Linked DNA regions of Homo sapiens: all the other regions are linked to region 1. Evidence: fine-mapped expression QTL. A gene starts in region 1. Each other region holds a variant in brackets. All regions are shown on one strand. Distances are from middle to middle. Region 1 holds the start of DLEU1 (deleted in lymphocytic leukemia 1). Region 2 overlaps DLEU1 (deleted in lymphocytic leukemia 1). Region 3 has its middle 76 kb from the start of DLEU1-AS1. Region 4 overlaps DLEU2 (deleted in lymphocytic leukemia 2). Region 5 has its middle 130 kb from the start of DLEU7-AS1.

Evidence for each region. PIP is the estimated chance that this variant, and not a neighbour inherited with it, causes the effect.
Region 2: its variant is the best candidate, but not a certain one, in a credible set for the expression of DLEU1 in whole blood (INTERVAL, PIP 0.90).
Region 3: its variant is the best candidate, but not a certain one, in a credible set for the expression of DLEU1 in tibial nerve (GTEx, PIP 0.82).
Region 4: its variant is the best candidate, but not a certain one, in a credible set for the expression of DLEU1 in whole blood (INTERVAL, PIP 0.77).
Region 5: its variant is the best candidate, but not a certain one, in a credible set for the expression of DLEU1 in tibial nerve (GTEx, PIP 0.62).

What each region holds. Positions count from the first base shown.
Region 1 is chr13:50,079,240-50,085,390 of GRCh38, forward strand. DLEU1 (deleted in lymphocytic leukemia 1) reads left to right here and starts at 2,930. Exons shown (of 7, transcript NR_109974.1): 1 at 2,930-3,318; 2 at 3,903-3,955. The region is part of intron 1 of DLEU2 (deleted in lymphocytic leukemia 2); the gene reads right to left. RefSeq lists enhancers at 1,382-1,441, 3,059-3,854 and silencers at 2,074-2,368, 2,232-2,451, 2,852-2,901.
Region 2 is chr13:50,151,206-50,157,356 of GRCh38, forward strand. All of the region lies in intron 2 of DLEU1 (deleted in lymphocytic leukemia 1), which reads left to right. Among named protein-coding and RNA genes, the nearest start is that of DLEU2, 29 kb to the left of the region's middle. RefSeq lists an enhancer at 1,813-1,862. The variant T/C (reference allele first, on the strand shown) is at 3,111.
Region 3 is chr13:50,600,029-50,606,179 of GRCh38, forward strand. No RefSeq gene overlaps it. Among named protein-coding and RNA genes, the nearest start is that of DLEU1-AS1, 76 kb to the left of the region's middle. The variant C/T (reference allele first, on the strand shown) is at 2,514.
Region 4 is chr13:50,099,155-50,105,305 of GRCh38, forward strand. The region is part of intron 1 of DLEU2 (deleted in lymphocytic leukemia 2); the gene reads right to left. The region is part of intron 2 of DLEU1 (deleted in lymphocytic leukemia 1); the gene reads left to right. It also overlaps the pseudogene RPL18P10. Among named protein-coding and RNA genes, the nearest start is that of DLEU1, 20 kb to the left of the region's middle. The variant G/T (reference allele first, on the strand shown) is at 3,238.
Region 5 is chr13:50,670,425-50,676,575 of GRCh38, forward strand. No RefSeq gene overlaps it. Among named protein-coding and RNA genes, the nearest start is that of DLEU7-AS1, 130 kb to the right of the region's middle. The variant T/G (reference allele first, on the strand shown) is at 3,308.

The sequences.
Region 1 (6,151 bases):
ATAAAAGCCATAAGATTTTTTATTTGAATATTTTTTAACAATGCGTATTTGACTTAATGCGAACATACACACTATAAGCTTCAAAATTTAACTACTATTCATAAAAGAATATAAACGTCTATTAAATTAAAACAATTGTTTCTCAAAGCATCTACAGCTGTTTATCAGTTAGTTTGCCGCTGTTCTTTGAAAACGACACCTGCCTTTTATCAAGATGCAATTAAATGGAATGACAAGCTCGGTAATAAATGGAAATATACTGAGGCTGTCTCAGGCAACATCGAACAAAAATCAACTGAAAATCAACCAGATAAAAAACAGCACACCCACACTGTTGTATACAATATATTTCTTCATAATGAATTTATCAAAGGAACTAAATAATAGATACGCACCTGTGCTTACCTGTTGTCTAAATTAAGAAACATAAATGTTTTGTAAATTAAAGTTTTAGTTCACTGCAGTTACTGAATTAGCAAAATGTATATTTTCACTAGATGCGAAAAGTTTTTTAAATAAGATGTTCAATTTTTATGGAAAATGTTAAAAAGATCATTCGTGAACCTTAAGAAAATTAGTTTCTTTGCATCAAAATAAAAGAAACAACTGTCCGGTAATCTGCATCCAACAAATATATGTAGTTTAAGGTGAAAAATTCCTATCAAAGGAAAAAAACTAAATTTTTCACTCAGTTTTTAACCAATAAAGAACAGTGACAAATATATAAAAGTCTTGTTAATTTCAACCAGCAGAAACATAATTTTGCGAAAACAGCCTCTTCAGTTTTACTTTTAATATACATTTGAGAACCACACGAAAATCCTTTCTGAGAGGAAAAAAAACTATTAAAAACCAACTTTTTTTCTAAACTCTCGTCCTAACGTTTCGTAGCTATTTCCGTGGTTCTCTGGCTAAAAGTATATTTTTTCGTAAAGTCGAGAATTATAGTTTAGCGTTCAACATTCAAACCCCCCAGGCCCGCTTCCTTCCAGCCAATCAGGGGGTAACAAGTCCAGAGTTTAGGGAGCTCCGTTAGACACAATTTGAAAAACATCACATTGCACTCTTCTATTCTCCTCCGGGAAACATTCTAAGCGAGGGCGGGTCCCCCAGTCTTCATAGAATATAAGAAATAAATCAATCGTTACATCAATTCCACGGGGAAAAACTCTGTAGGCAGGCAGTCCTAAAGAAGCGTGTCACCGCGGTTCCCAGGAAGCGTTATTCCTCTTTGCGAACAACTGAACAGAATAGCTGCTGCAGAAAGCATCTCCGGAATATTTGCAACCCAGAGCCGTGCGCCCCACACGCAATACACCGGCAAAGGGTTAATCTAGTGGTGCCTCCAGCGCGGAAAAGAACTCAAGATCTAATACATCCTTAACGCGGGATTTTTACAAAGGCCATAGAAGTATTACCTAAAGTTAATGCCGTCACTGGCTCACATCACTCAAGAGCTGTGGAGTAAGAATTGATAGAAACCACCAGCTAAGGGGGAAAAAAAAAATCACCGAAGGGAAAGACAAATAACAACTCTCGTCCCTCCTCCTCAGCGTCAAGAAAAGGTGGGGATCGCAAAATTACCGTTAAGTTGTCCGGGTAAAGACTTTTGGGGGAGGAAAACATTAATAGTTTCACAGATTGCTTTTTTCCTTGCGACATGTTTCAAACACCGGAGAAGAAAAAAGTCTTCTAAGAAAGTGCGACTCGGAGGAAATAGCCACGAGAAGGAAATCGTTAGCTCGAAGCCCCATCTTTCATCTCACCCGTGAACACTCCTCCCCTTTGAGAAAGGACAACGCTGCGAGAGCAAATGACAAAAATCCCCAGAAAGAAGCTAAAGTCCAGCATCTTTCCTAAGAGCCCGCTACAACCTCAAAAGCCTGCCCCTGCCCCATCTTGGAAGCGCGAGCCGCGGCCAGTCCTACCTACCTAGAGACCTCACCGGGACCCAGCGCGCCGGGGGAGGGCAGCCAGGGCTTGGGAAACTCTTTCCTGGGGCACCTCACGCTTCAGCGTCAAAAGACAATATAGATAGATGGGTGCCGGGCGGTGGCGGGGGGGACTGTTGCCACGACCCACCGGAGGGACCCATGACTCCGGGTCCTGAATTTTCTGTCGACCTTAAGTTTCTTGTCACGAGATGACGGCCATCACCGGGTCGAGAAAACGGCGAGAAAAGGCGGCCCGGTTCGGAAATGGGGGAGGGGCGCGCGTCCAGTCCTCCTGTCAAGGAGCGGCCGCCTGCAGAGACCCCGCAGTGCGCCGTCCCCGGCTCCGGTCCCGGGCGGGGGGTCTTGCTGACAGATCCGCTGGGCGGCGGCTGCTCCGCCGCAGCCGGTCCGCGTCCCGCTCAAACTGCAGCTCCCCTCCCCCCACAGCCCCGTCTCTCCGCGCTCCCGCCACATTCCGCCCGCCGCCGCCCACTCGCAGACGCCCAAGTTGCCCCTAACCCTACTTCCTCGGATTTTTCGCGATTAAGTGAGAGTAGACCCCGCGCCCACTCCCTGCACCCACCACTGCCTGCGGGTCCCACCACTGCCACCTCCCGAGTCCCGCTCTGCTACTTCTTCAGGCTCTTACCGACTGCGCCAGCCTTGGCGAAGCTCCGCCGACTGCCCTTTGCTCCAAGTAATTTTTGGCGATTTTTAAAGTAATTTTTCCGGCGGAGTCATAGTGGCGCTATACTCTCGGACAGGTTATCCTGTCTCTCCCGCTAGATTGATGAGATCAGGCATCACTCGAAAATGGCGCCGAAAGCGCTGAGGCTCCTCATTCAAATTCGTTAGAGCCAACCCCGCCGCCCCAGGGAATGCCGGGAACGCGGGCTGCCTCCACAGCTGTCAATACCGCCTCTTAACCCCCCTTCTCTTGCTTTCCCGACATTTTTACGCATGCGCAAACTCCAACCCTCCCCCCTCCTCCCGCCAGGCACATGCGCAGAATCATCGTGGTGCACGGCTCTCCCTTTGCTTCTTCGGTTGCAGTCCTCTTGCTTCTTGCGCGTGCGTGTAGCGCTTTTGCAAAGCCGCGGAGGTGAAGTGAACTTAGAGGTTGTGGGGCCGAGGGGTCGTCTTATAGCTACCAGCCCACAGGCATTTAGTCTACGTTGGAGGTAAACAAATACGGGTCCTGCTTAGGAGAAAAGAAAAACGTCTTACAGCCAGTGTCTAAACTCCAAACAACGGAATGTATCAATGAGACCTTGTATATGGATACACGTGCATTTAAAACCGCCCTGCCGGCTTGTAGAGCTTTTGCCGTTCTCCAGCGCTTTACAGGGGTTATCGCACTTAAGCCTCGGAACAACTTTACCAGGTAGGAACTATTACTGTTCTCGTTTTGAAGACCAGGAAACCTAGGCTCAGAGACGTTAAGTAATTTGCCCAAGACAGCACAGGTGGCACAGAAGTGGATGAATCCACATCTGTCAGATTCAGCAGCCCTGGAGTTCTCTACCACGCTGTACGATTCAACCTGAGCCCACACAGGAGGCGTGGTCTCCTTCTTCAACGGTGTGTGTGTGTGTGCGCGCGCGCCTGCCTAGAGTTAATGATTAAGTTTGCTGAAGCCCTTCTTCCCGGTCCTAAGCTGCCTGTTGCGAAGGCGCTTTCATTGAATTCAGTTTCTCTTACCGTCTTAACTTGTTCATAAACTTTTTGAGATAGGAATGGGCAGTTTTTCTGTGTCACTTAGGATGATTTTTTTTTTTAATGGCGTGATAAGTGAACTGAATCCAGCAAAGACGAGTTTCTGTTGTGCAACACGTTGGTATACTGACAGCTACCACGTATTGACTGTGTACTGTGTGCTGGGCACTGTGCTAAATAAATGATTTACGAATTAATCGTGTTTATTGCTCACAACAGCCTTATGAAGTAGGTATTATCTTCACTTTACAGATGAGGACACCTGAGGTTCAGATTAAGAAATCTGCCCCAAAGTCTTAGAACTGGTAAGTAGAAGCACCATATCTAGGCAAACCTGTCTACCTTCAAAAAAAATGGGCACTCTGATAGGACAATTAACGATAATAAAGTTGTAATTTTTTTTTTTTTTTGAGACGGAGCCTCGCTCTGTCGCCAGGCTGGAGTGCAGTGGCGCGATCTCGGCTCACTGCAGCCTCCGCCTCCCGGGTTCAAGCAATTCTCCTGCCTCAGCCTCCCGAGTAGCTGGGACTACAGGCAAGTGCCACCACGCCCAGCTAATTTTTGTACTTTTAATAGAGACGGGGTTTCACCATGTTGGCCAGAAGGGTCTCGATCTCTTGACCTCGCGATCCGCCCGCCTCGGCCTCCCAAAGTGTTGGGATTACAGGCGTGAGCCACCGCGTGGAGCCCTATAAAGTTGTAAATATTTTAAAACCTTCATTGTGAATGTTAAATAAGAGAGTAGATATGAAAGTGCCTGAAGTACTAATAAGGAAGTGGGAGAAGGGTAGCATGGTTTGCATTATTTAAGTGTCTTGGAAAAGAAATGGATTTTAGCAATTTGAGATCAGCAAGAAGTAACGTGGCAGAGTAGTATAAATACACTACTTAATCTCTGGTACTTTTTTGCACTACTTAAGTGGGTCGACTCTGGAACCGAGCTGCCTGGGTGAATCCCAGCTCCACTACTTACTAGCTGTGCCTTGTTGGGTAAATTATCTGTTGGACCTTTTGTAAAACAAGTACTATTAATACCTCATTGGACTGTTGTAAGGATGTAAATGAGCTAACATATTAAAGGAATTTCAACAGTGCTTGGCATATTAGTAAATGTTTGTTATTGTCAGTCAGTCATTGATCTTTTAAACTGGCTTCTTTAATGGTTGTTCAAAAATCAAACTACAGTTAGTGCCTTTAGGGGTCAGCATTTTTTTTCTTTTTTTTTCTGAGAGGGAGCCTCACTCTGTTGCCCAGGCTGGTTGGATCACTGCAACCTCTGCCTCCCGGGTTCAAGCAGTTCTCCTGCCTCAGCCTCCCATGTAGCTGGGATTACAGGTGCGCGCCACCACGCCCGGCTAATTTTTGTATTTTTAGTAGAGACGGGGTTTCACCATGTTGGTCAGGCTGGTCTCCAACTCCTGACCTCGTGATCTGTCTGCCTTTGCCTCCCAAAGTGCTGGGATTATAGGCGTGAGCCACCGCGCTGGGCGGGGTTAGCATTCTTATTCAAGAGCTCCTTAAAATGATAAATCAAACTGACAAATGATTTTTCCCAAATATGAATAATGATCCCTGTTAGGCAAATAAGGATGTTAATTTATTTTACCATCTCATAAGAATAATACCTGGAAATGGAATAGATTTATTGCTTTTTCTGATTGTTAAGGTTAAAAAACCGAGGCCCATCTAAAATATATATAAAGTAAAAATCATCCAAATTTCTAGCATTCAGGGATAACCACATATTGTTTGTACTTTAAAAATATAATGTACCTGTGGGGACAATCAGCTAGGGGGGGTCTGGATAAGTGGTATATTTGGGAGACATGTGTAAAATTGTACTAGAACTTACAAATAGGTAAGTAGCACAATCTGGTTTCCTCACTGTAGAATTTTTTATCTTAGTCCCCTTTTAGATATAATATGTCAAGAGAATTCTAAAGTGATGATGATAAATGATAACATTTATTGAAGACCTAATATGTGTCAGACACTGGGCTAAGCATGTACATGCATTTTTCCATCGAATCATCATGTAACTCATTAAGTGGGTGCAATTATCTCTATTTTGCAGAGACTAAAGTTTATGTGTAAGTCACTTTTAGAAGATTTAAGTCTAATTGTGTTTAAAGTCTTATTTAAGAAAAAATCTTTCATGAAAGCTTCTTGATTTGCTAAAATGGGAGAAAACAAAATCAACTAACATACAGTAGTTCCTATGCCTGAACAGAGAGCCCGATTGTAAAAAACGGTCTTTTGAAAACTAAGAATTTTATATTTGACCACAAGGGGGTGCAAATTCCTGAGTTAAATTTCAAAGGAAAAACGGGAAAAGTGCTTTTACTTTAGACCATCAAATTCGTGGGTTAAAACTAGTAAGAATTCCTGCCTGGAACTTTAATACCCTACAAAGTAATGTACTTTATAAGAAGAAAGAACTCAATTACTTAGGTGCTCAATTAGGGCAGAAGTGTCAGCTTGCTTTCTTCAATACAGTCAAG
Region 2 (6,151 bases), 72 kb after region 1:
GAACTCCTGGTCTCAAGCGATCCTCCTGCCTTGGCCTCCAAAACTGCTGGGATTACAGGCATGAGCCACTGTGCCTGCCCATTTTAACCATTTACAATGTATATTTCACTAGTGTTAAGTATATTCATATTGTTGTGCAGCAGATCTCTAGACCTTTTTCAATACGCAAAACAGAAACTATATCCACTAAACACCGATTCCCTCTCTCCTCCCTGCCAGCCCTTAGGAACTCCCTTTCTACTTTCTGTTTGTATGATTTTAACTACTTTATATACTTCATTTGAGTGGAATAATACAATATTTGTCCTTTGAGACTGGCTTGCTTTGCTTTGCGTAATATCTTTGTGGATTATATGGTAGTTCTATTTTTAATCTTTTTGAGGGAACTCCATACAGTTTTTCATAATGACTGCACCATTTTACATTCCCACCAACAGTGCACAAAGATTCCAATTTCTCCCCATCCTCACTAATACTTGTTATTTTCTGTTCTTTTGATAGTGACCATCTTAATGAGTGTGAAGTGATATCTTATTGTGGTTTTGATTTGCATTTCTCTTATGATTAGTGATGCTGAGTATCTTTTCCTGTGCTTGTTGGTCATTTGTGTATCTTTTTTGGAGAAATGTCTATTCAAGTCTTTTGTACATTTTTAAATCAGGTGTTTTTTTTGTTGTTGTTGTAAAAACACAAGTTTCTTAGATATTCTGGATATTAACCCCTTATCAGATATATGATTTGTGAATTCTCCCATTCCATAGGTTATCTTTTCATCTTTTGGTTGTTCCCTTTGAATGCACAGAAGTTATAAATAATTTACTAAGCTTTAAGTATTGAAATTTGAATCGAGGTTAAAAATTTTCTTGATTACTTCAAACATATTATTTCAATAAAACCACAAAAGGTATTGATTCAGTATGAATCACTGATTATGAACACACACACACACACACACACACACACACACAAGCAAACATAAACCTTTTATTCCTGAACAGTTATAAGAAAAGATTATACTACTTCAGTTGTTATCCTAGAGATTTTTCTTTCAACTATTTAAGAAGTTTGAGATTAGACTGTTTTAAACTTCTGATACCATTCTACAAAAATGTGATTAAAGAAAATGAAAGTAACTTTTACTGTGCAGCGTCAGAATAATGAACATGGTGTATTCTTTCTCTTTTAATCATTTCATTTAATGCTTCATTCACAAAGATTCTTAAAGAAGCAACCACAGTGAGGACGTGCTTTGGCAGGCAAGGAGAGGACTTGCACTCTGTCTCCCACTCCACTGTCTAACTTTGAACTATTAATGTAAATCCCAGAAACCTGAACTGTTACCATTTCCTTGCCCAATAGGGGTAACCAGACCTATTCTCACTAACTTGGTGAATGTCCGAAAAATACATAGGTCAGTCTGATATTTTTGGGACTTCCTAAATTTTCTTTGCTTTTGCAAGACACTCAGATCTATACAGCCTAATTTGTTTTTACGAACACTAGCAGAGTACTTCAGGTTGGAGTTTTTGCCTAAAGAATATAACAAATGGGGAGTAAGTTGGAGAAACCAGAGGGAGCCTGGTGCTTCTGGCACAGGTAACACAGTTAACTGAAGTCTTTTGGCTTCACTAACAATGGCCACCTGAAGCTTGGCCAACCCTCTGTATATGCCCTTTCTCTAATCAGAAAGGTCATATGCCACGGAAGATTTTTCTCAGTTTTTAAAAATCCCCTGGCTGGTTATCCTGATTCCTTAAAACAGTTTTTTGAAAGTAACAAAAGTAGAATGTTTGATGCATTTTATGAGTCCATGGTAAAGTTAGATACATGTGCATATGAACACGTGTTCTTAAGACTCCTGTGTAGTCAAGAGAGCTGAGTGTTCAGAACTCAAAGTTGGCCTAATAAAAGACACCAGACTATAGTACTTGCTTTGTTTGTTCCGTTTGACTGAACCAAATGTCTTCAAGTTTCGTTTTCAATTTTTATCGTAAAAACCGTGAAAAGCAAGGTGTTTGCTTACTGCTGGGATTTGATTCCATCTTAAAGACCTGGAGCAGAAGTTTATATGGATTTCAGAAAGCAGCTGTTTTATGTGCATACATAGTACAAGGTAGAAAAATGTAATGTAACCCAGTAAGATTAAATAACAGCATAACAAAAACTTAAAAAATTCAAAGTTGAATATGTAGTACACCTCTCACAGTGGAAGTCCTGGCTTTTAAGAAATTGCTGCAAGCATTTAACATGAGAAATCTGTGAATGTTCATTCCTAGCAGAAAAAAGATCGGATATGATTGTAGGTTTCTGTGTTGTTGCTCATATTGAGCCAGCTATTCATGTATTCAGATTCATGGGAGAATTTCTAGCATGAGTTCTGTCTGGTATATCACTCTGTGTTATGGTTTCTCTATCTACCTTTACAATGCACATCCTGTTGATTCTACTTATTATGGCAGAATAAGGAAATATATGTGCATTACGATAGTGCTATTGATATGCACTTGATACTCTGGCTAAGATAAACATAAATCAGGTAAAGCCAAGTGTATTTTAGCCTTTAAACTGGGATATGCATTCCCCACCTGCTCAGACTGAAAACTGTCTTGTAGGATTAAGAGGATGGGGAGGGTGCATGGAAAATTATTTTTTAAAGGAAGAGGAATAATATGTAGAGTTAGGAACATTATAGACTGTTAAAGGACCAATGTTTCAATGCAAATGACCTCCAAGTTATATAAAAGCCCTGTGTATGATATGTTTATTGTTATTAGTTTTTAGCCTTTGCAGTCTTCGGAGACTTTGCTGGCCTGGATTTCGAGTTTAGTAGAGTACATTCAGCTGCATTGTGCATTTCAGCTCTATGGAACCGTTGTGCTTCGTCCCTGTTTACCTCATCCTGTGGGCAAGCATCTGCTTTTGCGTCTTACTTCTTAGAACTGCAGCTGGATTTCTGGAATTCTGTGGCTGTGTGGTATTTTCTCCTGCATATTAATAAGATTAAATTGACCAAAAGGTTTCTTTTTTCCTTCAAAAATTTTCCTAATATTTTTAGAGTATGAAGATTATATAGCTTTATTGTAAAAATATTCAAGCAGTATTGAAAAATA[T/C]AAAGATCAATAATAACAACAGTCCCAGAGATAACCACTAGTAGTATAACATATTGGTGATCATCCTTACAGATGACTCTCATAAAGATCAATACTAACAACAACAATCCTAGAGATAACCATGGGTAATATAACATATTGGTGGTCATCTTTACAGATGATTCTCAATGCATATATATTCACATATAAATATATATAAGTAAATATATACATACTCTTACAAAATGAAAAAATACAATACAAACTTTTGTAACCTTTTCCATACTAATCACTATAGATCTACATCATTATTTTAATGGATGCATTATATATATTGTATATAGAATACTATCTGGCACTCAGTAGGCCCTCAACCAATGGTTGAATGAATGAGCAATAATTTATTTAACCAATCTTCTATTAGTGGACATAATTTATTTTCTGTTTTTCACTATTATAAATCACATGGCAATTAATATGTTTTTGCATCTTCTTTGTTCACATGTACAATTATCTGTTTAAGGAAACCTTAAAAGTTGGGTCAAAAGGTGGAAACATTTAACAATTTGATAGTGATAAACTTGCTGAGTTGGCTGAGTTTATGCTCAAGTCATACAAATTTACATTATCATCAGCAATACACAAAGGTGTTTGTTTCCGCACATTCCCCTGCATGCCTACATTGCTGTCAGTCTTTTAGAGTTTGCCATCCTGATAGAAAAATTGCTGTACTGGTTTTCCTTGCATTATTTACATTACAAGCAAGGCTGAGCATCTCTTTGTATATTTATTGGCCATTAGGTATTTCTTTTATGCATTGTCTGTTCTTTGTCCAGTGGTTTTGTCTTGAAACACCAGAGACCTATTTTATCTTAATGAAGTCATTTACTTTTATAATTCTATCATATGCCCCCAAACAGGGAAAGATGCATCTTTTAGGTGGGTATACTGATAAGTGAACTTGTGTGGACCCGTAGTTCTCATTTGTCAGAGGTAGCAACGTAGGGAATTTGAATATTTTTACCTCTAGGTCGGTGTCTTTTTTTTTTTGTTTGGAGATGAAGTCTCACTCTGTCACCCAGGCAGGAGTGCAGTGGTACGATCTCAGCTCACTGCAACCTCCACCTCCCAGGTCCAAGCGATTCTCCTGCCTCAGCCTCCCGAGTAGCTGGGATAACAGGCATGCGCCACCACACCTGGCTAATTTTTTTTTTTTTTTTTTTTGTATTTTTAGTAGAGACAGAATTTCACCATGTTGGCAAGGCTGGTCTCGAAATCCTGACCTCAGGTAATCTGCCTGCCTCAACCTCCCTAATTGCTGGGATTACAGGCATGAGCCACCGTGCCCAGACCCAGTGTCTTTTTGTGTGAGGACCACTACTAAAGTTTTAAGAGATTTCTTAAAAAGGCAATCGTCATTCTGAGGCAAAGATTACCAACATCTGGATTCCAAAAAGTGGGGAAAAATCAGTTATTCATATATATTAAAATGACACACTTCATTTCCAACTACCAAGTACAATGTTCACCTTTATTCTGTTTGTTTTCGCTTTGTCGTGCTACTGAAATATGTGTGCATGTGTATTTAACCAAAGAGAAACTCACTCCTAACCCCATATTTAGTGGTGGGACCATCCCTTATTTAGTGAGGCTGTTTTTTTTCCCCCCAGACCCGAGTTGTTGTTGCCCATGCTGCTGAATTCCCAATATGAATAAATCATAATCATATGATTATACTAAATCAGAGGTTTCAGTACCCTTCCACAAAGTGACAATAAAATGCTCATTAAAAAAAAGAGTAGGTTGTGTTCAATGGTGTTAATTTAAAATTTTAATGCTCAGGCCAAAATGCCAGAAAGTGAACCTCAGTTTCTTGGTAATAATAAGGTGAACTGGCTTCCAGCAGAGAGATTTTGTGGCTTCTGTATCCTGCCGCTGCACTTCTCCCTTCTCCAGCCTCCTTTCTATTTGGTGGTGCAGAATCACCTTGGTCAGCCCTTTGACCTTGCCTGGAAAAAAGTCCTCATCAGTGAGTGAGTGTGAGGTTAGAGTGATAAAGATTCTAAAGGAATGCCTTGTTTTGATTCAAATAGTTGGATTAGTCACAGAGTTACTTAATCCACACACATAGTAGAATCCTCCAGCAAGCTTCTTTGTTTTCATCAGAGCTTTTGAGAGATTATTATATTATATCTCTATCTTTTAAAGATAGAGTAGAAATCCATCTATGAAGAATAGTTTTAGGTGCATTCCTGCCTGAACACACATTTGGACAGTCTTATAATTATGTATCTTCCCGAGATGCATTTTGAGCCATTTCTACCCAGAACTTAAAAAAATATTTCCTATGAGTGCTGGAGGTTCTTGCTTCTCTTAACCCACTAACTTTTTGAAGCCATAAGAATATCTTATTAAGGATTATGCAAAATAACGTCCTACAAATCCTGATATTATTACACTGCCCAAAAAACTTCAAAGCATCAGGAAAGTGTTGTGTTTTTTTTTTTTTTTTTTTTTTTTTAACTAAACCAGATTCAGCTGGCTACCCCACTTGGCTACAGAGTACTAAAGAAGAGACTGAACTTGATCCTGCTGCCCTTGCATACACAACACTCCCATTGACGCTAGTGAAGACTTAAGCGCATGAAAGGATTCCAGGATCAAAAGGTTAGCTCTATGGGGAGCTGTGTCTGGCTCAAGCAATCCATTTTTTTCTATTGACAGTGAAAACGTTTTATAGTTCTTTTTCAAAGTTTTCCCAAACTTTTACAATAACAGGCAACTTGTGAAAAAGTGAGAAGGCATCTAATTGAACTATATCCAGAGGAGATCATGGCAGAGACCAACAGGAAGAAAAACATTTCCAAACCACAGCGATATTGGTCAAATCAATTGTATTTGAAGAATAAAGCATTTGAGGCGTCGGCTGAGAAAAATTTTCATTATGAAACTTGGTTGGACTATGAAGCAGAATGTGAGATAAAATAAAACACAGAGCTCATGAGTTTTTATCTTTGTCTGCTAATGACTTATGCTAGCAGGATTATACTTTTTTTTTGCAT
Region 3 (6,151 bases), 520 kb after region 1:
TCCCAAGTTTGTGTCTCTTTCCTAGTAGAAATACTATCTATCCTCGTCCTTTGCCATATGGTTATCTGTGCCTCCCAGGTGAAGGAATGTAGTTCACCAGATTGCTGACAAGCATGTGTGCTTTGTAATAAGGCCTTCTGGTGAGACGGTTTAATTCCAAAGAGCACTTTTAGTGGAGGAAAGATTTTGGCCCCATCTGATCTACCAAGGTCCAGTACCACCCCTGGAAACTAGATATGTTCTTATGTATCTACCATTTTCTTTCAAGTCATCTGTTCTCAACCTGCTAGGAAAGAGTGAACACAAAAGCGAAACTGAGTAATTATACTGAAAATTCATATTGGGGCGCTTTTATAAAAGTGACACCACGTTTAACTATACTACTGGAGAAATGGTGTGCTTTCAGGTAAAATTATTTCCAGGGGTTTGTAGGTACAACTTGAAGATTCTAAGCCTTGGAAGAAAGAGTTAAGTCCCAAATTCACTTCCTCCACTCCTTTTGAGGCATTTCTGAAATTAAACATTTTCCCAAGTTCTGCATAAAATCAGAAAAGGTCTATTGTTACTAAAGAGGAAAAGGAGATTGCTCAGAAGTTGTTTTCCAGCCTTACACAGAGCAAAGGGCCTGGTGAGAGATGATTGTTTTGTCAGGATTCTGAAGCCTTTTTGGAATAAGACAAAAAGACAAAACAAGGTTAGGGTAGGAGGTGGCCTAAATAAAGAGGATATAATGCTAAGTAAATAGAGCTGAAAGTCAGGAACCAAATGAAACAAGGACAGTCAAAACAATCAGGGGGACTTGCTGAAACCAGCCAAACAACAACAAACAGCTAACAATATGGAAATGAGCCTTTTAGAGGAAAACTCCAAGCTATGCTACACTATCCTGACTGTCCTTTCATGACAACATGAAACTAGTATCCCAGAAAGATGTAATATATGGCATCTGAAATGGCAGGAGTTGGAGTTTCCATGGTGAAAATAGTTCACTTGTCTCAGGCTTTACTCACCAAGAACAAAATTATGCCAGTCTTGGTTTCTTATGTCAGCTGGGTCTATATCTACGATGGACCAAAGAGCTTTGTTCTTGGACTCTTTAGGCAAGTCCTTGGTGCTTATGGTTAGGGTCCCTGTGGCAGAGTCCTGGTAGAAAGGATGTCCCTCCAAATTCATATCCTATTTTTAAAGAATTTTATTGGGGACCCTGTAGATCAACATTGTGTATTTTATATTTTATTGATGAAGAGCCTGAGAGCTAGAGAGGTTATGCTGTTTTCAAGGTATTATTTGAACATCTCTTTGCATATTGCAGCAATAGAATTGCTACAATAGGTCTAGATATTGACCTAGAGTGATCAAGAACATTGTGTTAATGAATATCCATACATCTATGTATGACAACATGTCAAATGAAAAAAATAAGTTGGATATAAAATTGATTCCAACTAAGTTAAACATATATTATATCCAGAGAATAAAGACTGAAAAGAAATAACACCAAAACATTAAAAGTGGTGCTCTGTGAGAGTGGGATTACAGGAAACTATTATTTTTCTTTGTTCTCTGTTTTCCAAATTTTCCAAAGTGAATATGTGTTACTTTTTTAAATTGGAAAAATAAACATTAGCAAGTTGTAAGTTTTATAAAAGAATAAAATTGTACATAAATATTATCAACCCAAAATGGTGGAAGACAGTCAAACGAGGCTATGGAAGCTGTGTAAGAATCAGTAAAAACCAATGCCTCCCAGAGGAATAGACACAGACTATTTTCATGTATTTGTCTGAAGGTGTCCAGGCCTGCTAGGAGAGGGTTTTATTTTTTGTTTTGTTTTGTTTTATTGAGACAAGGTCTTACTCTGTCGCCCAGGCTGGAGGGCAGTGGTGCAATCTCTGCTCACTGCAACCTCCACCTCCCGAGTTCAAGCGATTCTCCTGCCTCAGCCTCCAGAGTAGGTGGGATTACAGGAGCCCACCACCACGCCCGGCTAATTTTTGTATTTTAAGTAGAGACGGGGTTTCATCATGTTGGTCAGGACTGGGCTGGTCTCGAATTCCTGACCTCAAGTGATCCACCCACCTAGGCCTCCCAAAGCCCTGGGATTACAGGTATGAGCCACTGCACCTGGCCTGGGAGAGGGTTTTAACCAGGTGATCAAGCTACTCAAATATTCTGCAAAAACAGAGACTTTAAGGCTCAAAATATAAAAGGTGAGGGAGGACAAACTCCCTGAAGATGAGGGTGGCATTGTAAGATGCCTCTATGAAGGTGCTAAGAGCTGCAGGACTTCTCTCCACTGAGAGCCAATCACAATCCCAAAAGACACAATCTCCAACATTGTAATCTCAAATGTTGAAATCCCAAAAATATCGAAATCTTAAAAATATCGTTCTGGAAAAAAATATTAAAATATTCCTTAAAATATATTTATTCACACTTTAAAGGGGAACTAACTTGAGAAACACGTAGAAACACCACAGAAAACTTCATAGGCCACTTTGCACAATAAGATA[C/T]GCAATAATAACATACATATTTTTGCCAGCATAAGCACAGGTACACTAACAATAGCAGCATGGATATAACAGTTACTAGTAGATGAGCCATATTCATAAAGAAATAGGTCAAAAAGCAAAATGTGTAAATGCATATCATTATGGTTGGTAATGGCGTGTACCCAGCTTCATAACTGAGTTCATCTGAAATCAAAAGCTGAGATGGTCACCACTGCATATGCAATCGCTCAAAGAGCCAAGATCTTGAGACGTTTTATCTTTCACAAACACAGATGTACTAAAAGGATGTCTCTTCATTTACTGAGGAGATAATTAATGTAAAAACATTGTGCATGTTTTTACATGCCACACAAGTCTTACATACAAAGTCAATATTGCGATAATGCACTTTTGTAAAGTTGAATTTGCAAAATATGCATGAAACAAATTAAAACTCTAAAGTCTCTAAACATCTTTACCTCTATTGTTGGAAATTATGCAGAGATGTAATACGCTACACAGTGAATTGTAAAACATAGTGCCGATAATTTTAAAAAGTCAAAAAAAAATTAAACAAAGGAAAAGCAAAAAGAAAAAACAAAAAAGCCCTAAAAAAATTTTTAAAAGTTTGACATATGAAAAAGTATATTACAGGGATAGATTATGGGCAATTTCAAGGAGATGGTACATAGCAGCTGGCCAGCTTTCGCGATCATTACCTTTTTTGTTTGTTAGTTTTTGAGACTAAGTCTTGCTCTGTCACCCCAGCTGGAGTGCAGTGGCATGATCAAGACTCACAGCAGCCTTGAACTCCTGGGCTCAAGTGATCCTCCCACCTCAGCCTCCTGAGTAGCTGGAACTATAGGCATGTGCCACCATGCTTGGTTAATTTTTGTTTTTTATTTTTTGTAGAGACAGGGTCTTACTATGTTGCCCAGGCTGGTTTCAAACTCCCGGCGTCAAGTGATCCTCCCACCTTAGCCTCCCAAAGTGCTGGGATTACAGACATGAGCCACCACACACAGTCTGATTAACTACATTTTGAAGGCTTGCATCATGATGAGTAGCTGCTTTCTTTCTTTAGGGATATGGCTGTTCTTTGGAGAATATGTTCACATTCATTTTCTCTGTGGCACTGCTCTTTTTGAAATTCTTCTATGATTTGTTATATACCGACTTGGGCATCCCATATTGCATTTTCCCATCTTCTGTTTAGGGATTTTGATCTTTGGGTATTTCGACATTCAGGATGATGGTGTTAGGGATTATGTCTTTTGGGATTATGATCCAAACTCCCCTCCACCTCCTCAGGCACAGGGCTGGCCCCATCCATGCATCAATGGGCACTCATATCTGGTTGAGTGTAAATTAAGATGTAACTGGAGAAATCCATGTTCTGTGCCAGTTGTGATCTGCACTAGCTCTCCCTTTTCCATCTCAAGGCAATTCTGCCTGGGTTTCCTGCCTAAAGTCACATAGTCGGGAGCTAATAGAGTTGGCCCCCAAACAAAGCTTCTCAACTCCTAGTTCTCTACTGCTTTCCACCAACACATGCTCCCCTCTTTTAAGTCATTCAGTTTCCGATATGTGGATTTTGTGCCTGAAAGCAAACTTTGAATTTTGGGGTGCCAAGTGTAGTCCTAAACATAGGTAGGATAGAATTATGTGGTGTAATAAAAGCCCCAAAATTCCATTGATCCAAAATATTTTTTTCATGTGTGAAACTAAATGCCTGAAAATTTGCCTTAGGAAACAACTCATTCCTTTGGGTGAAAATTCTTGGTTTCATAGAGTTCTTTATGTTAAGGATACATAGGAGAATCACTGGACAAGTAATAAGGGTCATGGAGTCTCCTCTGGCCCATTATGTGCAATCGAGCAAGTAGTTTAAACTCTTCGGGTCTGTTTTGTCATCTGTCAAAACTTGTAACTACTTCTTAGTTATCAGCCTGTAAGTGAGAATTAATTCATGAGATTTTTCTTTCAGTCTAGCTACTACAGAAGAAAGGGGCTTTGGATGTTTTAACAGGGGAAATTAAAAGGAGAGCTCTGAAGCATGAGCTACTCTTCACTGGATGCAGATTCAGGTGGGAGATTGGAGAGGGCAGCCCTCAAAGCTGGGGGTCCAGGAGAGATGGGAGGGCCCCACATGGAAATGCTGATTGGATCATGTTGTTTTGCACTTTTTACCATGAAGACAGGCAGACTGCCTTCTCATTTCCTCCTCTTACTACCTAACAAAGTTTGCACTTAACAAACGTCCAGGCTGGGTGCTGTGGGTCACGCCTGTAATCCTGGCACTTTGGGAGGCCAAGGTGGGCAGATCACGAGGTCAGGAGATCAAGACCATCCTGGCCAACATGGTGAAACCCATCTCTACTAAAAATACAAAAATTAGCTGCGTGTGGTGGTGCATGCCTGTAATCCCATCTACTTAGGAGGATGAGGCATGAGAATCACTTGAACCCAGGAGGCGGAGCTTTCAGTGAGCCGAGATTACGCCACTGCACTCCAGCCTGGCAACACAGCAAGACTCCATCTAAAAAAAAACAAAAAAAAAACTTAAATTTATTAGACTTCCCCATAGTAATTGCACCCAGAGCCTGACTATAGGATTGGAGAACATGGATCAAACCCATGCTTCATGCACTCATAAGTTAAGGGAACGTTGATGAGGTTTCTCTCTTCTCTCTGGCATAATTGTACCTCACTGTTTGGTGAATGTCCTCTCTCAGGACACTCCTGATCCTGTTTTTCCAAAGCATCCTTTGTTCTTTAGTCCAGGACTTTCTTACCTTGTCATTTTCCAATCTATTCCTTAGGAGAGTCTATACTTCCCAAGCACACAAAGACTGATTCAGGCCTATACAGGTCCCTTGTACCTGCTGTTTAGCATGGTCACTGGGGCTAGTTGGGCCCCATCCTATGGTAGAGTTAAGGTTGCCAGCAGCTTGAAGGGGAGGGAAAGGGGACAGTCAGACTTGAGATGATGGAGAAAGTACATAATTAGCCTCCAATTAATGAAGAATTGCCTGTCTTAGCTGCATTCTCATGTTCTCGAGTTAAACACATTTTTACCCAGAGAATCAGAGTCTCCTAAGAAACATAAGATTATCAATGAGTGGTTTGGGCCAATGCGGGCCCTTCCCAGACCAGATAGATTATCCATTTCCTTCTTGTTGGATATAGACTTTTTTTTTTTTTTTTTTGAGACGGAGTCTTGCTCTGTTGCCCAGGCTGGAGTGCAATGGCATGATCTTGGCTCACTGCAACCTCCAGCTCCCTGGTTCAAGTGATTCTCCTACCTCAGCCTCCTGAATAGCTGGGATTACAGACACATGTCACCATGCCCAGCTAAATTTTGTATTTTTAGTAGAGACAGGGTTTCACTATGTTGGCCAGGATGGTCTTGAACTCCTGACATCATGATCCGTCCACCTTGGCCTCCCAAAGTGCTGGGATTACAGGTGTGAGCCACCACGCCTGGCTGGATATAGACCTTTATATTTATAGAAAGTATTCTAAAAGTTTTGACTTCTTAAAAGAGTTTAATTCCCTGTATTCGAAGGAGGGGGGAAATAAGAAACAAACACCTATGCCATATTAAAAAGAGGGCCCAGATATTCATCCTTTGATATTACTAGAAAGGAGGCTAATGA
Region 4 (6,151 bases), 20 kb after region 1:
GAAAAAGGAACAAATAAGTAGTGAAACTAATAGAAAAATGGCAAGGCAATAGACTGTAATCATATCAGCAATCACATTAAATGCATATTATCTAAATATCCCACTTAAAAGGCAAAGATTGTCAGATAAAAAGCAAGACTGCTTTTGGACCTGGATGAACAGGAGGCACCATCACGGAAGTTGACTCCTGCCACAACAATGACTGAAAGGTTCAACACCAGGAACCCAAGAGCCAGGACATCTACTGAAGGCTGTTGGTTAAGCTGTATATGTTTCTGGCCAGAAGAAACTCTACCTTCAACCAAGTTGTGGTGAAGAGGTTATTTATGAGTTGCACCAAATGGCCATCTCTGTCTCTTTCCTGGATGATCTGGAAGATGAAGCTTCCTGGCCAGGAAAACAAAACAGCTGTGGTTGTGGGGACCATGTTCAGGAGGTGCCCAAACTGAAGGTGTGTGCACTGCACATGAGCAGTTGGGCCTGCAGCCAAATCCCCAAGGCTGGGGACAAGATTCTCACCTTTGACCAGCTGACCCTGGACACCCTCAAAGGCTGTGGCACCATCCTGCTCTCTGGGCCTCACAAGGGCCAAGAAGTGTACTGGCATTTCAGCAAGGCCCTGGGAACCCAGCATAGCCACACTAAGCCCTGTGTCCACTCCAGGGACCAGAAATTCAAGCACATCAGAGGCTGATGGGCCAGCCAAGGCTACAAAAACTAACCCTGGATCCTCTATCTTATTAAAAAGATTTTGGCCTGGGCGCAGTGGCTCATCCCTGTAATCCCAGCACTTTGGGAGGCCAAGGAGGGCAGATCACTTGAGCCTAGGAGTTCAAGACCAGCCTGGGCAACAAGTGAAACTCCATCTCTATAAAAAATTAAAAAAAAAAATTAGTTGGGTGTGGTGGTACATGCCTGTAGTCCCAGCTACTTGGGAGGCTGAGGCAAGAGGATCGCTTGAGCCCAGGAAGTCAAGGCTCCAGTGAGCCATGATCGTGCCACTGCACTCCACCCTGGGCGACAGAGTGAGACCCTGTCTTAGAACAAAACAAAACGAAACAAAAAATTTTGGATGGTGGGGGAAAGGAAAATAAAAAACAAGATCCAACTATATACTCTCAATAAAAAAACACATTTTAGGCTGGGTGTGATGGCTCCCAGCACTTTGGGAGGTCAAGGCAGGTAGATCACCGGAAGTCAGGAGTTCAAGACCAGCCTGGCCAACATGGCGAAATCTCGTCCCTACTAAAAATACAAAAATTAGCCAGGCATGGTGATGGGTGCCTGTAATCCCAGCTACTTGGGAGGCTGAGGCAGAAGAATTGGACGAATGCAGGAGGCAGAGGTTGCAGTGAGCAGAGATCATGCCACTGCACTCCAGCCTGGGAGACAAAACGAGATTCCGTCTCAAAAAAAAAAAAAAAAAAAAGAAAAAGAAACACATTTTACACACAAAGACATAATAACATTAAGAATAAAAGGATGACCAGGCACAGTGGCTCATGCCTGTAATCCCAGCACTTTGGGAGGTTGAGGCAAGAGGATCACTTGAGCCCATGAGTCTGAGACCAGCCTGGGCAATATGGTGAGATCCTGTCTCCACAAAAAATTAGCCAAGTGTGGTGGTGCACACCTGTAGTCCCAGCTACTTGGGAGGCTGAGGTGGGAGGATAGCTTGAACCCAGGAAGTCAAGGCTATAGGGAGTGGTGATCACGCCACTGTACTCCAGCCTGGAGTGACTCAAAGTACAGTCACTTTGAGACAGAGTGAGACTCTGTCTCAAAAAAAAAAAAAAAAAAAAAAAAAGGTAAAAGGATGGAAAAAGATATATCATACTGATGCTGGCATTAGTCAAAAGAAAACTGGTGTGGCTATATTAACATGAAATAAAGTAGATTTCAGAGCAAATAATATTACCAGGAATAAAGAAGGCCATTTTATAATAATAAAAGGGCTGGTTAATCAGAAGGATACAATAATCCTACATGGTTTTGTCTCAAATAATAAAAGCTTCAAAATATGTAAATCAAAAACTGACAGAAGTGCAAGGAAAAACAGACAAATCCATAGTTAGAGATTTCAATACCCCTCTTTAAATGATTGCTAAAACAAGTAGAAACTTACAAGGATATAGTAAACTCAAGCAACACTGTAACCAAATTAACAGTACAGGTTGAGCATCCCTAATCTGAAATACAAAATGCTCCAAAATCCAAAATTTTTTGAGCACCAACATGACCCAATACGTTGGGTCCTATTCCCAGGATCTCTTATTATATATATATATATAAATGTTCAGAAAATCCAAAAAACTTTGAAATCTGAAACACTTCTGGTCCCAAGCATTTTGGATAAGGGATACTCAACCTGTAATAGAATATATATTCTCTTCAAAGTATACATGAAACATTTACCCAAATCGATCATATTCTAGGCCAGAGGTTATCAAACTATGGCCCTGAGGCCAAATGTAGTCTGTTTTTGTATAGTCCATGAACTAAAAATGGTTTTTACATTTTGAAAGATTTCTTTAAGAAGAAAAGAAAATATGTGACAAAGATCATATGTGGCCCACAGAGTTTAAAATATTTACTGTCTGACCCTTTAGAGAAGTTTGCCTGCCCCTGTTCTAGGCCATAAAACATGTCTCAGTAAATTTTAAAGGATTCAGATAATGCAGAGTATGTCTTCTGACTACAGTAGAATTAAAATTAGAAATCAATAACAGAAAGCTGTCTGGAAAATCCCCAAATGTTTGGAAACAAAATAACATGCTACTAAATAACCTTCTAATAACCCATTGATTAAAATAGGAGTGCAGTAAAATTAGAAGGCATTTTGAGCTGAATGAAAATGAAAACAAAGCATATCAAATTTTGTGGCATGCCACTAAAGCAGTATGTAGGAAGACATAAGCAAAATGCTTATATTAGAAAATATAAAAAGTCTCAAGTTAATGAGCTTCCACCTTAAGAAATTAGAAAAGAAGAACAAATTAAACACAAAGAAACAAAAGAAATAATAAAGATCAAAGTAGAAATAAATGAAATGGAAAACAAAATAAATTGAGAGTATTAATGAAACCAAACCCTGGTTCTTTGAGATAAATAAAATTGATAAATCTTTTGCCACGCTGATCAGGAAAAAAAAAAAAAAAAGAGAGAAGACACATATTACCAATATCAGGAATGAGAGGTGAAATATGACAAATTCTACAGATACTTAAAGAATAGCAA[G/T]GGAATATTATGAAAAACCTTAAGCAAATAAAATTCAACAACTTAGATGAAATGGTCAAATTCCTTGAAAGACATAACTACCAAAGCTTACTCAAAAAGAAGTACAGCCAGGTGCAGTGGCTCACACCTGTAATCCCAGCATTTTGGGAGTTTGAGGTGGGCAGATCACTTAAGTCCAGGAGTTCGAGACCAGCCTGGGCAATGTGAAGAAACCCCATCTCTACTAAAAATACAAAAAAATTTAGCTGGGTGTGGTGGTGCATGACTGTAGTCCCAGCTACTTGGGGGGCTAAGGCGGGAGGATCGCTTGAGCTTGCGAGATTGAGCCCTGATTATGCCACTGCATTCCAGCCTGGGTGAAAGAGTGAGACCCTGTCTCAAAAAAAAAAAAAAAAAGAAAAAAAAGAAAAAAAAAAGAAAAAAAAGAAAAAAAAAAGAAAAAGAAATAGATAACTTCCAAAGCTATGTATCTATTTTTAAAAAATTAATAGTTAAAAATATTCTCACAAAGAAACACTAGTGGATTCTTCCAGACACTTAGGGATAACACTGTGTATACCAATTATATACAAATCTTCCAGAAAACTGAAGAGGAAGGAATACGTCTCAGTTTATTTTTGGGGGCCAGCATTACCCTGATACCTAAACCACACAAAGCCATTACAAGAAAAGAAAACTATAGCCCAGTTTCCCTCTTGAACATGGATGTAATAATTCTCAACGAAACTTTAACAAGTCAAATCCAACAAAATATAAGAAAGTTAATATTACTGGATGAGGTTTATCCCAAAAATATGTCATTGCTTTAAATTAAAAAATTAATCATTGTAAGTCACTATATTAAGCTAAAAAAGAAAATCTGATCATTTCAATAGACACCCAAAAAATCTGACAAAATCGTATATTTGTTCCTGATTTTAAAAAACCAAAAACAAAAAAAACAAAAAAAACAAAAAAAAAACCAAACCTGTTAGCAAACTAGGAATAGAAGGGTACTTTCTCAACCAGATAAAGGACATCTATAAAAATCCTACAGATAGCCTTATGCATAATGATGAAAAACTGCATGCTTTCCCTTTCCCCGTAAGATAAAGAATAATACAAAGATATCTGCTCTGACCACTTTCATTCAACATCAGAGGTTCTGTCCAGGGCAATCAGGCAAGAAAAAGAAATAAATCGCATTCAAGTTAGAAAGGAAGAAATACAACTGATGATAGCCATCATTCCTAAGAGTTCCCCTTGCCTCTTTATAATCCTTGCCTCCTCTTACCTCTCTCCCCAGGAAACCACTGGCCTGTTTTCTGTCACTAGAGACCAGTTTGCATTTTCTAGAACTGATATATGTGGAATCATGCAGTATGTTACTCAATTTTTTTTGTCAGTAATTGGTAGCTTATCTTGCAATCAAAGTTCATATACAACCATTTGATCTTCATTCCATTCCCTCATTAGTCCATAGAATGTCAATCAATTTTTCTTTCTTTTATTTATTTATTTTAACGAAACAGGGTCTTGTTGTGTTGCCTAGGCTGGAGTGCAGGCTTACTTCAACCTCCAACTCCTGGGCTCAGGTGATCCTCCCGCCTAAGCCTCCAGAGTAGCTGGGACTACAAGGGTGTGTCACCATGCCTGGCTAACTTTTTAAAATTTTTTGTATTGATGGGGTCTTGCCATGTTGCCCAGGCTGGTCTCGAACTCCTGAGCTCAAGACCTCCCAAAGTGCTGGGATTACAGGCATGAGCCACTGCGCCTGGACTCAATTTCTGTATGATGATGACTTTCATATGTACATCAACAGGCCAGATAGCTTATCAAGAAAGCTTCTCCTCTGTCTTCTAGTAATATCCCACTTAGATCTGACATTATTTTTTTCCTTCAAGGTATTTCTTCCAAATTTCTTGGCTGTTGTTGGTGACAACACAAGTTTTTGGACCTTTAAGTTTACAATCTTAGGTTCATTTCCTTATTTTATTTCTTCCCTATAGGTAAATGATCACTAAACTTGTTACTTCTTATAGTTACTTCTTTGTAAGGCACTGCAGATATGTTTCTTTTCATTTTTAAAATTGCCCATTTAATTCAAGCTATTAAATATCAAGCTTGTACTATATCAAGAGTACTATATATCAAGACTATAGCCTCTTGATATTTTCCCTACCCTCCCATCCTGCCATACCCATGTCTCCACTAGCCTATATAAAACATAAAATACTTTTCATCAAACTCTCTGTAGAGAAGTGTTGCTGGGCGAATAAGAAAAACCTGATTGACTAGAAAGCAAATGTAAATGTAATCTCCTTTCTTTTCAGTGATTCTACCAGAAAGGAATGAAGAACAGAACCTTCAGGAATTGAGTCACAATGCAGACAAATATCAAATGGGAGATTGTTGCAAGGAAGAGATTGATGATAGTATTTTCTACTAGCCATTGGGAAGATAAAAGGAGACAGAAGATTGAAGCCTTTGCCAGCCATTCTTTCCCTTTTTGCTTCCAAACTCCTCAACTGGGAACCTTCATATGTGCAGTATTTATATTGGATCATACTGGTGATTATAAAAGTTCCTAGGAGGCTAGAAGAGCCAACCAACAGAGAAGGGAAAGCAGTCTGTTCTGAACATAGGGACATAAGTTCATTCATGCCAAGTATCTTTCCAGCATGTTTCTCCCATTTAGAATATCTAGCATGTAAGGCCTTTCAATATTAATATAAGCCCAATATCAGCTCTTTCTCTTTGTATTTCATCTCTTTCTACTCTCCTATTTGTATTTTGTGTTCCTATCAAAGTGTCGTATCTGGGAGATGACCTGCCTTATCCTGTTCTATAACAGTTTTGTTTGCTGCTGTGTCTTTAGAACAGTGCCTGGCACACAGTAAGCACTCAATAAATCTTTGATGAATGAATGAATGGT
Region 5 (6,151 bases), 590 kb after region 1:
CACAGGAGGCGGAGCTCAGGCAGTAATGCGAGCAATGGGGAGCAGCTGTAAATACACCTGAAGCTTTGCTCGCTGGCCCACCAGTCACCTCCTGCTGTGTGACCCTGTTCCTAACAGACCATGGACTGACTGGTCAGTTGTGGCCTTTTTGGAACTGGGCCATACAGCAGGAGGTGAGTGGCAGGAATTGGGGACCTCTGCTTTATCGCAACCCAAACAAAGACAACCATGATGACATCTTGAGTTTTCCAGTTATTCTTAATAGAAATGTTCTGAAAATCCAAGTGCTTACTGTGAGATGCTCAATTCAAAACTGAATCATTACAGGGTTTTACTTTTGTTTTCTTTTGTCTTTCCTTTTCATAGAGGAGAGGAAAAATCTGAGCAAGGTAAATAAATGTAGATACAATGGCCAATGAAGAGTGAGAGCCATAGAGTTGCGGGAGATGAATTTTTAATGATCATTTCCCATATTTTACAAATAAAGACACGAGAGGCCCAGAAACACTGCCCACAAAGGCTCCAGGTCCACAGCTGGCAGGAAGGAGCCCCCTATGTTTTCTGACCCCATGTCCAGCATACACACCACTACATTACCCTGCCCAGAGGGAAAATATTAGAGAGAGTTAAAAGGAAGCCTGGACCTTTTCCTACAGGAGTGATCCACCTTAAGATAACATTCAAAACAATGGTTACACTGACATCACCTTCAACATTGTTCCTGTTGCCTGGGATTCATGGAGTTGTGACTATTTTGGAGCAAATTTGGAGAAATGTTAATTCACTCTCTCTAGTGTCCTGAAATGGATTGGATGGTGCAGTATGTTGTATTGCATGGCTCCTAACCCAATTCCAGGGAGTTTCTTGGGCAGCAAGAGGGCTGAAAGCCAACATTTAATATTTCTGTATCAAATTACATTTGCAGGGTTCATGAACATCTCATTTTCTAATTCCATTTCTCACAAAACAAGCCAACATCTGCCTTTTGTTATTTCTATCCCTCATTGTTTTTGAAATATTTGTAGTACATTTTGAGTAAAACTCCCTTGACAAAAACGCCTGGCAGGCTCGGGCACCGTCATACCCTTGGTGAAAAGCTCATATCTCCCAGCTTCTCGTCATTTCCAATACACCCATGGGTTTATAAGCACCCATAGGGCAGGATGCTTCCTGAGGCTACATACGGACTTTGACCAAAAGGTGGGACCAAAGATCTCTGGGAATTAAGAAAAAGAAAGAGTAAACCAGGCAATCTGTGGAAGGAGGTGATCTTACAGGATTAGGTGGGGACAAAGGTGAGAATCTTATTCCCTTTCCTTTTCACACTTTGCCAACTTCTTCCTCTCTGTCTTCTATTTTTTATAAAGAGACTGTGAGAAGAGACAAAAGAAGTGCTATTAAGGTGTTTGGGGTTAGGGCCAAAATTAACAAGTAAAATGAAAGTCCTTCAAAGATGATCTAGAATAAATTCCCCTGTATCCCACTGCTTTAAGGAGGGCAGAAGGAGAGAAGGGAGAATTTGTTCTGTGTCAGTCAAATGGAAATGGAAGGAAACCCAGCAGATGAAGAAGAGGGCTTCAAGCCACAATTCTTCACCAAGAGTTTGGTGAATCTTCCTATTATTTAGCACAGTGGCCCCTTTATGAAGGAGATACTTTAGGTCAAATTTTTAATCTATCTTTTCAAAATCTCAAATCAATCCACATTCCTTTGAAACAAGTGAGTCACAATTGCTGGCTGGGTCATAGGGTAACTGTGGCCTTGAGGCACAGTTGACACAAGCAAAGGCACCCCCCCACACACACACAAAGAGTTGCATAATGTTCCCTCTTAAGGTCTCATTGCTGCTTCATAAATCCAAGCTAATTCATGTTGCATGGGGTAGAGCATATAATAGAAAATAAGGAAGCACATTTGGAGTCCAAATATTAGAATTAAAATTCTGCCCCTGTTGATTTCTAATCAGATAGACTGTAAGTGGCCTGAACATTTCAAGCCTCAGTTTCCTTATTCACAAATGAGAGGAACTTTATGAGATTTAGTTGAAAATCAAATAGTGACAAATGAAAGCACAACAGGATGCTTAATAGCTGTGAAGGGCAGTGCACATGAAAGGGTCATCATCAACGCCCAGCTTGTGGCTGACCACTCCTCAGGGGCCAGCTCTTTCCCATGAAAAACCAAGGAGTCCTTGTACTGATTTTTTAAAATTTATGAAACATGAGCTCATTGGGAAATCTTGAACAAACAGAAGCTTTCCCACTCTTTTAATTCAAAACATTTCTAAAATATTCATTTGGCCCATTTTCTGGCCTTATTAAGTTAAACATAAGGGACAGAACAGAGTATTGATTTCAGCACTTTCAGGAGTTCCAGGCTTGCTGATCAACACCAGAGACAGGAACAGGGAAGAGGAGGTTGCACTGGGAAGGAGGCAGAGAAGACACTCGGGTCCAGGGAGACCAAGACACATCCTGTAGACTCATCATGTGTCTGTGCACACCCAGTTAGGACGGCGCTGAGTGCCCAATCCCTTCAAGCCTGCTCCTCTCCTAGTTCTCTCTGATTCAGTCAATGGCAGTTCCCTCTTCCGATAGCTCCAGTGAAGGCCTCGGGAGCCCTCCTGGGCTCTTCTGTCACACCCTTCACGTTTGCTTCATCAGCACAGTCTTGGGCTTTACGTTGATGTCAAACTGAGAATCCCACTACTCCTCTCCACTTCACTGCCCCACTCCATCCAAGCTGCCATCCTTTCTCCATGGATTGGTTCAATAGCCTCAAAATGGATCTCCTTACTCTGCCCCCAACCTTCCCATTCCTCTTGAGTTTATTCTCAACAGGGTACCGAGAGCGATCCTGCTGAAGTGTGTATCAGATCAAGTCAGTCCTCTGTTCAAACTCTCCAAGAGCTTCCCCACTTTAGAAGCAAAAATCCTTACGATGATCTGCAAGATTCTCCACACTGCGGCCCCTTGTTTTTTCTGTGCCTCGCCTTAATCCCCTCCCCTACCCCTGGCCTCTCTTAACTCTTTTCTGGCCTCTTCACTGTTCCTTAAACGTACAAGGTAACCTGTTGCCTCGGGGCCTTTGCAGTTGCTGTTCTCTTTCTTGGAATGTTCTTCCCCCAGACACCTGCAAGGCTGGCTCCCTCATCATCTCCTTTCGGTCTGGATTCAAATGTTACTTTCTCAGTGAAGCCTTTCTTGACCACATGGCCTAAAATAGTAACCTGCTCTCCACTCTCGCTCTTCCACATATTCTTTCTATAACTGTTTTCTGCTTCATTTGTTATTAGCATTTAGGATTA[T/G]CTGATATGCTATATATTTGACTTATTGTTTTATTTTTCTTCCCTATAAAAATATAAGCTCTATGAGAGTAGGAAGCTTACATTTTGTCCAGGACAGTGCCTAACACAAAGTAAGTACTTAATAAACAATTTTTAACAGATGAATGATTGAAATGACTAAACAAAAATAAAAACCCTGACCACAGTTTTTCTTTTTTCTTTTTTTGGAGACAGTATCTCACTCTGTTACCTAAGCTAGAGTGCAATCATAGCTCATTGCAGCCTTGATTCCTGAGGCTCCTGTGATTCCTGCCCCCACCTCAGCCTCCAAAGTTGCTGGGGCTACAGGCATGCACCACCACACCTGGCTAACTTTTATGTAGAGATGTAGTCTCACTGTGTTACCCATACTGATTTCAAATCCTGGCCTCAAGCAATCCTCCAGCCTCGACCTCCCAAACTGCTGGGATTACAGGCATGAGCCACCACGGGCCCTTGACTACAGTAGTTTAAACAGAGAATAGAAATTTAACACAACTAGAAGTTTCAGATTAGGCAGTCTAGGGCTCTACAACGATGCCATCAGAGGCCCAGTTTTTTTTTTTTTGTTTCAGTTTTTTCATTTCATCATACTTAAGTAAGTTTTTGCCTCATGACTGCAAAATGGCTGCTGCCCCACCAGACAACACATGATCTTTCCAAAGCAGAGGGAAGAAATGGAATGCAAAATAGGAAATGGCAGCATTTGTATTAGGAAAGCAAAAGCTTTCCCAGAAACTCTCAACTTATATCTCATTAATCAGAACCTTTTGGCATGGCTACCCCTTGCTATAACACTAAACAAAAACTGAATTTTGTTAGTGAGGAATGGACACAGGGCAGGTGGTTCCCAGTATGTGTCATAGAGCATAAGTCTCTGTCACCCTTCAACTTCAGCTCATGCTTCTCTGCTTGGGATAAGGAGGAGCTTATGAGACCCCAAGTCAAGGGAATGAGTTTGGGGAAGCCTTAGATGTAACCGTTGCTGGAGAGAAAACCTGAGTCCTGCTCTGGCAGAAGAGCTGTGGAATCGGACACCTACAACACTTTGGCAGCCATGTTCCCAGTGTAGGAATGAAGGTGACCCAGAGGATCATGAAAATGTCCAGAAAAGGCTCACGTTGTCCTAAGAGACAGTCCCAGCAGCCTTCACTTCTTTGCTTCCAGGTGTTTTGGAGGTCCCACTGCAAATTATTCTAGCTGTGGTGACAATGATGCTTTTATTGCATGCCTTGACATACAGGAGAGACACCTGAGTTTAGACTTGGCTCACTGTACCCTCTGAACCAGTGGTTCTCAACAAGGCAAGATCAGCTTGGAGATTTGACAGCTTCCACCTGCCCCCAACTACAATAACACATAGAGAGCATAGAGCGTCTCCGTGCAAACCCACTCCCTTTTGCCTCAAGGGAAGAATATTTTCAACATCTCCCCAAGCAATTCTGATACTCAGAGAGGAGTATCTCCTCTGGAGAGGAGGCCCCTCTGTTCTCAACCCAGAAGTTTCAGTGTCAAGGAGCAAGGTGACAGGGGGTGGCCCTGTTACATTTTTTTCTTTTTTATTGATACATAATATTTTTACATATTTTGGGGCTACATGTGATATTTTGTTATATGCATAGAGTATGTAATTATCAAGTCAGGACATTTAGGATATCCATCACCTCGAGCATTTATCATTTCAATGTGTTGAGAACATTTTAAGTCCTCACTTCTAGTTATTTTGAAATATATATTACTGTTATCTATAGTCACCCTTCTATACTATCAAACATGAGAACTTACTGTTTCTATTTAACTGTACATAGTACCCACTAACCAATATCTCATCACCTGCCTGCCACCCTCCCACCGCCCTACTCCATCCTTCCAAGCCTCTAGTAACTATCAGTGTCAGGAACAAGGACTTGGCCCACTTATGGTGTGACTGTAGACCTGCACCTCCCAGCCACCATCCTGTCCCAAGACAAAGGCGAACACGTTTGCAAGCTGCAGAGGCCACCCAGGAATGGGCTGTGTGCAGACTCAGAGCTTTGCTAGCCCAAAACATTAATGCTTGCCACAGAGCCCTGGGTGGGAAAGCAGTCACTGGACTTCTTTATTCAGTTCCTTTTTCTTTGCTGAAAGGCCGGAATCCAAGACTTAGAGACAAAGTCTGTTCCCTTTGGGACTCTTGTATGAGGGGCCTACAGCCCTTCTTCAGAGAGGAGGAGATCTGTGCCCTGTGTTTGCTATAATTATAATGACAGGAAGCCAAGAACTTCGGCCTCCTCCCCCAGTGTTCCCACTATGCTGAGGATGGAGGAAGGGACCCCAGTTTATTCACCTCTTCAGAGACCACTTCTCAGGCTGCCCTGGGAGACATCCTTGTCTTTGCAACTCCAAGCCAGTTATGGGCAACAGAAGCCCAGCTTGTGTGTTGGTTTGTGGGGAAAAGGAAAGGTGGGGACCTACATGCTGTGATTGTAACATCTAGAAGCCTTGAGAAAGGTCTCAAAACCTGTCATAAAAGGGTTGGTGGAAAGGCCTGAGAGTTTGACATGAGAGAAGATTGAGGGCATCTAATAAGGGACTCCAAATATTTGAAAGAAAAATTAGGCATATTCTTCAAAGTATCAGCAGGAAAAGCAAAGAAGTTGTTACAAGAAGTTGCACAGGTGTTTTCTTTCTTTTCTTTTAATCAGCAAGAGCTGTAAGACAATGGGACAGATTTCCCCTGAAGGTAGTGAGTTTCCTGACTCTGGATGTGTCCGAGCAGAGCCTTATCTAGCAGGCATGTTGCTGAGTGGACTCTCATTTGGTGGAGGCAAAGGCTGGATGTCCTCT